2 separate regions of the Homo sapiens genome follow, and region 2 is reported to be linked to region 1. Evidence: microRNA targets listed by miRTarBase, many of them from high-throughput screens and not tested one by one. Region 1 holds a microRNA gene; the other region holds the end of a gene's coding sequence.
What was found. Region 1 holds the annotated microRNA hsa-miR-767-5p (UGCACCAUGGUUGUCUGAGCAUG, at 1,726-1,748, opposite strand). A microRNA usually pairs through its seed, bases 2 to 8, with sites in the 3' UTR of a target mRNA and lowers its output. Matches are read on the target gene's strand: a 7mer-m8 pairs with bases 2 to 8, a 7mer-A1 pairs with bases 2 to 7 and ends in A, and an 8mer does both.

Region 1 (4,153 bases):
AGGTATAACATCAGACGACCATGCTGAATGGACAGCCACCACCAGTAATTTAGCATGTGACTAAGGTACACAACCAGACATTCTCAGAATGCAAGCTAAAAGTCATGATAAAGAATAAAGAGACATAATACAAATAATATAACAATATCAGCAAATACTTATCATTTATATGTGTCAGGCACTAATCTAAGCATTCTACATGTGCATCTTTGAATCCTCACAACTCTATGAGGTATTATTATTTATTTTACAGTTTAGAAAACAGAAACAGAAGGGTGAAATGACTTCCTCAAGAATTTCAAACTATTAAATAGGAGAACTGGGATTTAAGTCCAAGCAGTGAGCATTGTGCACATACACTGATGGTGCCATGCTTCCTCATATGGATGTGATACAAGATTAGAAACACAGAGCACAGGAACAAATGGCTTTGGTCCAGAAGCAGACGGCAATGTAGCAAAAGTAGACACCGTAGCACATGCTCAAACATCCGTGGTGCATGAGCAGCCACCACAGGAGTCTGAGCATTTGACCACGATGCACACTCAGGTTCTGCAACAGAAGCTGACATCCAATATATAGGAGTAGATACTGAGGACGAAGAAGGAGGCAAACACACTGTATGACAAAAAATCATGGTGCACAAAATTATATTCATGGTACAGAAAATTCCATTTTTAGTACAATGTAGACAACGATGGTGCATTTTCACAAATCATGATGAATGAGCAGAAGACCATAGCTAAAGGGCATAAGCACATTCATACAACCATGGAAAATTAGCCAGGGCTCACTTAGAGCCAAGAGACATCTTATGAGAAAATAATCATAAGTGGAGACCTCATAGATGGATATAGTACAAGATCAAAACATCTCAATACATGAATGATTATTTCAAATGTAGGTGGCAAAGGTGCATAGAGGACCCACCGTGTAACATGTTCAGACAAAAGTTGATGAAAGCCATTAGTGATATTTGACTGTTTGATCTTGACTTACACAGGTACACAAAAGTAGTTTACACTATTACGTAGCATTTATGCCAAAGGAGCTAAGAGGCATAGATAGATACAGCACACAAACTTGTTTTCGGAGAATAAAACCATGCTGTGGTGCTTACTTAGACAGATATTGTGCCTTATACAAGAGCCACGGTACAGGGGTAAACAGCTTTGTCCATGAGTAGATGTCAGATATGTCAAAAGAGACCTGACACCATATACTCAGATGACCATTGCATGAACAGCCACCACTAGTATTTGGGCATTTGACTATGATGGCTACCTACACAATCCCACGACATAAAGTAAAAGAATGATACAGGAGCAGGTAGACATGAAACCATGATTACCAAAACGGATATGGTTGGTGATTAAAAATCATTATTTTCTTTAGTCTGGGAGAAGATGGCAATGATTAAACGGGTGAAGTTATGATATATGCTGAAACAGCCATGTTGCATGAACAGCCATCACATCATAGGCATTTAAGCATTTGACTGATGTACAATTAGAAAGCCCAGTGACATGAGATAACATCTGTCTTTTTGGAACAGATAAACAATGTGCAGAAAAAGGCAGAAGTGATCTAAGAGTAGAGAGTCATAGAATATGAGTAAATACTAAACTCATATACACGATGCATAAAACACTATTTCCCTGTAAAGCAGTAGACAATGAAGGTTCCTGCTCAGAAACCATGGGGTATGAGCAGACAAGCATGCTGCATGCTCAGACAACCATGGTGCATGAGCAAAAACCTACAATATAAAAGCAGGTGGGTGTGATACAAGAGTGAATAACACAATGAGGAATATGCCCAGATGGACAGGACATATGAATAAAGGAAACATAACACATGAATACAACTTATTTAGGCAAACAGCATATGACAATGATGCTGGAGGAGATATCATGGCACATACTCAGGCAATCATGGTGCATGAGCAACTAACACTAATATTTGACTGTTAAACCACGATGTACACCCAGATATCCCAACAAAAATAAGCTGATGACCATAATATAGGAGCAGATGAACAAGGATATTGAAGAAGATGCTGATAATAAAATAGCAGAAAACGATAGTGCAGTAGCTAATAGAATACTACAGATGGCAACGATTCAAATGACTGCCATGGCATATACTTATATAATGATGCTTTAAACACTATCACAAGTATCAGCATTTGACCATAATGCACACTTAGAGAACTCCAGAATTTGAGCTGACAATTATTATACACGATCAAGGGACACAGTATCATTATCATCATTGTCATGTCATCATCATCATCATCATTGTTATCATCATCATCACTACCTGCCAGGCAGTATTAAAAATATTTTATGTATAATAGCTTATACAATCCTCACAATAACCTTACTACTTTTTTTGTCATTTTGCAGGAAACTGAAGCATGAAGATACGAATTGATGTGTCCATTTCATGAACTGATGTGTCCAAGATCTCATAGCTAGTAAGTGGATAATCCAGGATTCAAATTCAGTCATTTTGGCTCCACTATCCATTATTGTAAATATGACAATAAATGACAATATGCTGTGATTCTTCTGACAGACATGATACCAGATTTTAAAACAGAGCAGAAAAATGAGTGGCTTTGTTCCAGAAGCAGATGGCAATGTTGCAAAAGTAGACACCATAGCACATGCTCAAACATCCGTGGTGCATAAGCAGCCACCACAGGAGTCTGAGCATTTGACCACGATGCACACACAGAAGATCTGCAACATGAGCTGATACCAGGTTATAGGGAGTAGACAGATGACAAAGGACAGAGAAAACTCATCACAATAGTGAAAGACATGGTGTAGAAATTAATATACATAGTACAAAATACTCATTCCCAGTACAAGTAGACAATGATTGTGTATTTTCACACAAGTGTGGTGTTTAAGTTTAAATACGTAGTACAACTTCAATCACAGTATATGAGCACAAATTCATTATGTATGTTTATATTATCATGGAGAATAGGTCAATTCATACATGAAAAAGGGGATAGATATGGTATCCCAGGAAAGAATCACAGAGTAAAAACTGCTCAGGTGATACAAAAAATACGGGTATGTATGGCATTTTGTCAAAAAGAAGATCAAAATAATACAGGATGTTCAGATGAATAAGATGCCAAAAAGCATGTTTTAATATGTGTTCATGAGGTCCAGTCAGACACCTACAGGACATAGGCTATCAATTATGACACAGGTGCAGATGGACATGATATGGAAATAAAACATGGTGTGATTCTTACTTGGGTAGATATGGTATGTAATCAAAAATAACCATGCAAGCAATTAATGACTTTGGCCCAAGAGAAGATGACAGTGGTACAAAAAAAAGACTCACATGGACATAATGACTCATAAAAAAAATAACCATGGTGATTGACTCTACACATTTGTGTTTGGGCATGATATAAATCCAAACGATCCCATTACACAAACTAACAGCTATGATACAGTTAGTAAGCATGATACAGGAACAGACAGCAAATATGGAGAAAATACCCATTCTGCAGGAGCCAGTGACCACAATTCAGGAACTAATATTCATGTTATTAAAGTTATCATTCTCCACACAGAAGGAGATTATGTTTATTTTTTACACATTAATGATGGGTGAGCAATATCTATGATGTATACACAGAGAATCAATTAGTATACACATAAAATACACAAGCAGTTGGCTATCCTTCAGGAGTGGTATCCATTCAGACGCATGTCCCTATCCGATATCCACAATACTGAATCAAGTTTTCAGTTAAGGATAAGATGACAGTGGTGCAAAATGACACCTCATGCCATATGCTCAGATGGCTCTTTTGTTTGAGCATCTGATCATGGTGCACAACTTAACAACCATAAAATGTGAGGTAATGAATGATAATAGAGAAGACTATATCCCAAGACTATATCGCTGTAAATACGCAAAATACAGGAACAGTTGGATATAGTACAAGAGCAAAAAGCAATGTTGAAGTAGGAGCCCGACATGACTGATATATGAGCTAGTAACATGCTGCACAGTGTGATAACCATGACATAGAAGTTGGTCAATCACAGATCAATCTCAAACATCAGTGATATATGAACAGAGAACTAAGCTGTAGTGCTTCCTCGGATGAACA
Region 2 (4,000 bases), not on the chromosome of region 1:
GGGCAGGGGAATGCTCAGGAAATAGATATTGAATAAAATAAGTGTATCCATCCATCCATCCATCCATCCTTCCATCCATCCAGACATATATACATATGTAAACATTCTGATGGTCAAATGGAACAATGTGGGCTGAAGAATAATGCAGGTAGAAGAACCTAAGATTACAGATTCTTGATTTGGGAGGAACTTTATTTTATTGTGCAAACAGTCTACAAATTTGAAACATACTCTATCAAGAAAGACACTGTTGTTAGGAAAGGGCGTGGGAGAGGGTGGCCCCACAAAACAGTGTAAAGTTCTAAAGAATTTGAGAGGAACACTCTGCGGGACCCTGTTCCAAGGGCATCTTTCTAAGAGTCTGTCCCTTAGGCTCTGCCCCTTTTTGGCCACGTTGTCAAAGGCCTTCTTTATGAACGAAGTGAGACACATTATTTTTGTTTTCTTGAATTCTAAAGTGATTGTCTTGAGTTCCCTGGGGGAGACTCCTGGGAGGTGTGGCCCACTCTATTCCAGAAACAAACCAGGAGACTGAAGACTCATCCCAATCCCATATCCCATGAAAATGTGAAATCAAATCACCCCTGACAATTCCAAAACTAACGGAATCCTAACATAACTCTATGTAACTCTAAAGCTGAGTGTGCTGGTAATTAAGCTTCCAGCCCACCCTTCCCAGCTCTGGGGTGCAGGGTCACCATGGGCTCCTTCCTGTGTGCACCCCACCCCACCCCCACTGTCAGCATCCTGTCTCCACCCTGAGAGTGACAGCTGGTTCCAGTAGCGGGAGTTGGTTCCAGCTTGCCATTTTCCTAGCACTCCTATAACCAGCCTGCTGATGCCCATTCAGAGACAGCAGCACGGGCTGGCCATGTCCCCTCTCCAGAATTCTGCGTCCAGCTCCTGGACCTTGAGCTCTGAGCCCTTGGGCCACGTGTACAATTAATAGTGCCTCCTCCTCAGAGGACTAACCCCCAGCCCTAGGGCCACCTTCATATTTCTGAGTTTTGATATTTTCAACCTCTTTTCTTTGTTGTATGAGTCCTTGGGCTGGGAGCTTGCAGTCAAAATCTTCATGATATCTCATTATCACTACTTTTTTTTAAATCTCTACTAGCTGGATAACAATTATTTATATTAAATTCTCTCTTGAAATAACTGATACAGTGTCTCTTGATTGAAACTTGACTAGTAGACTAAGAATTCTAACTCTAAATAATTCTGAGGGCCGGGTGTGGTGGCTCACACCTGTAATCCCAGCACTTTGGGAGGCCAACGCGAATGGATCACCTGAGGTCAGGAGTTGGAGACCAGCCTGGCAAACATGGCGAAACCCGGTCAGGAGATCCAGACCATCCTGGCTAACATGGTGAAACCTCATCTTTACTTAAAAAAAAAAAAAAATACAAAACAAAATTAGCCAGGCGTGGTGGCAGATGCCTGTAGTCCCAGCTATTCAGGAGGCTGAGACAGGAGAATAGCGTGAACCCGGGAGGTGGAGCTTGCAGTGAGCCGAGATTGCACCACTGCACTCCAGCCTGGGTGACAGAGAGAGACTCCGTCTCAACAACAACAACAACAAATTAGCCGGGCATGGTGGCAGGTGCCTGTAATCTCAACTACTTGGGAGGCTGAGGTAGGAGAATTGCTTGAACCCGGGAGGCGGAGGTTGCAGTGAGCCAAGATTGCGGCACTTCACTCCAGCCTGGGTGACAAGAGCAAAACTCCATCTCAAAAAAAAAAAAAAAGAAAAAAAAATCTGACAATTAAATAAAGAACAGAAAAAAAATTTGAATGGCAAATACAAAGCTGAAAAGAAATAACTGAGAATAAATAACTCTGAAAATAGCTCAAAAACTAAATACCTCAAAAACTCTTTAAAAATTCAGAAAATATAATGTTCAAATATGAAGTAATGCTGAAAATGAAATAACTAAAAACCAAGTAACTTGAAAAAAAGAACATAAAAATAAACAACTCAAATATAAAATAACTGAAAATAAATACCTGTGAACATAAGCAACTCGAAAACCAGATAACTAGGGGAAACCCTTCATTAAAACATTTCACTCTGAAAATAAATAACTTGACAGTAGTTCATGAACTTCCAGTGAGTGTTTAATAGTCAAATAAGTTACTGTAAAAATAAATAACTCAAAAACTCCAATAAGATAAAGTGAAATAACTATGAAGGTAAATAACTCAGATAATAATTGTAAAGATAATTAAAAATAAATTCCGGCTGGGCGCGGTGGCTCACGCCTGTAATCCCAGCACTTTGGGAGGCCGAGGCAGGGGGATCACGAGGTCAGGAGATCGAGACCATCCTGGCTAACACGGGGAAACCCCGTCTCTACTAAAAATCCAAATAAAAAATTAGCCGGGCGTGGTGGCGGGCGCCTGTAGTCCCAGCTACTCAGGAGGCTGAGGCAGGAGAATGGCGTGAACCCGGGAGGCGGTTTGCAGTGAGCCGAGATCACACCACTGCACTCCAGCCTGGGCGACAGAGCGAGACTCCGTCTCGAAAAATAAATAAATAAATAAATAAATAAATTCCAAGCAAATTAATTTGAACATCTGTAACTCCTAAAACAAAACAACTACATATAAATAACTGAAAATGAACAACTAAATAACTTTGAAAATAAAGTAACTATAAACCAGTAACTGAAACTATAAAATTAAATAACCAGAAAGCTACAAAGAAATGAAAATCAACTAATAAAACTAAAAATAAAATACAACTGAAACTAACAAAACTCATTTAAAAACTAATAAATCGATACATAAAATACCTCAGAAAGTAACTTGGAACGAACTCTCTCTACAACGAAGCAATCTTGGCACTAACACGAACACCCCATGAACGCTCGCAGGGATGCTGGGAGGCGGACCGGGAGCTCCCAGTCTGCGGCCCCCGCCGGGTTGGAGCGGCTCCGGCTCCTCCAAGGCTCGGGCTAAGCGGCTCTCAACCGATTCCCACCCCGCCCTGGAGAAATGCGGGCGTGTCTGCAGGCATTTTTGATTGTCACGATTTGGGGGCGGGGTGGAGGATGGGGTGGCGCATTCCTGGCACCTAGTGGGTAGAGGCCAGGGGTGCTACTAAACATCCTACCGTGGGAGCACAGAGAAGCCCACGCAGCAAAGAATTGCCCGGCTCCGAATATCGAAGTGCGCGGTCGAGAAGGCGTGGGCTGCGGGCTCTGCTCGCCTCTGCAGGCGCCTTAGAGCAGCTCCGAGGTCCCCCGTGCGGAGCTAGGCGCGCACCCAGGACACCCCTCGGGCTCCTCGGAGGAGGCCCTGGTTGTCCCCTTTCTGCCGCCGCCGAGGCTCCGGCTGCTTTCTGCGTAGCTGGGCAGGGCCCGGGCCCCCACACCGCCTCTCCCGGGAATGCGGGCGCTCTGGAGCCGAGGAGCGGGGGCGTCCGCAGGGAGGTCAGCTCTCCTGGGCGGAGGTCCTCGGGCGCAGCGCCCTCGCCTGGAAACCAGCCGTCGCCCCCGCAGGAGCCAGCCGGCCCGTGGACGCCCCAGCGCGCTCCTCCTCGGTGCTGCGGGTCGCCCTGCAATTCCGAGAAGAAAGTCAGAGACGCCGTGGCCCAAAGAGGCGCTTAGTCTTTCCTCGCTCACACTCACGTTTCCTCCTCATCGCGTTCTTCTTTTTCTCCCTGGCTGCTTTCTCCCCTCTCCAGGAAAGCAGATTTGGAGGAACAGGTTTCGTGACTGTCGTCCGACTGGAAAAGGCCCGCGAGCTGGAAGGGAGGGGACGGGTGCACCCTCAGAGTTATTGCTGGAGGCTGTGGCCAGACCGGGCAAGGTGGTGACTCCCGCTGGCAGGCTGAGGCCCACCCCAGCCCTCCCACCTGGGCCACGGGGCTCTCAGCGGGAGCCCCAGTTATGACCGGACACCAGCGCACCGCCAAGGAGACAGCCACGTGGGGACATGCTGGACTAGGAGGGTCAGAGCCAGTTTGAGGGTCTGGTGACCTCGGCTCCCTGGCTTA

Region 2: the mRNA of MCF2L2 is a reported target of hsa-miR-767-5p. The part of its 3' UTR that is shown has no 7-base or 8-base seed match.

What each region holds. Positions count from the first base shown.
Region 1 is chrX:152,391,756-152,395,908 of GRCh38, forward strand. MIR767 (microRNA 767) reads right to left here and starts at 1,774; the gene lies at 1,666-1,774. All of the region lies in intron 1 of GABRA3 (gamma-aminobutyric acid type A receptor subunit alpha3), which reads right to left. It overlaps MIR105-1 (microRNA 105-1), which reads right to left and starts at 544; the gene lies at 464-544. It overlaps MIR105-2 (microRNA 105-2), which reads right to left and starts at 2,737; the gene lies at 2,657-2,737.
Region 2 is chr3:183,175,945-183,179,944 of GRCh38, forward strand. It overlaps MCF2L2 (MCF.2 cell line derived transforming sequence-like 2), which reads right to left. Exons shown (of 30, transcript NM_015078.4): 29 at 3,633-3,748; 30 at 2,097-3,559. The coding sequence ends at 3,436. Among named protein-coding and RNA genes, the nearest start is that of LAMP3, 15 kb to the left of the region's middle. RefSeq lists a silencer at 3,317-3,406.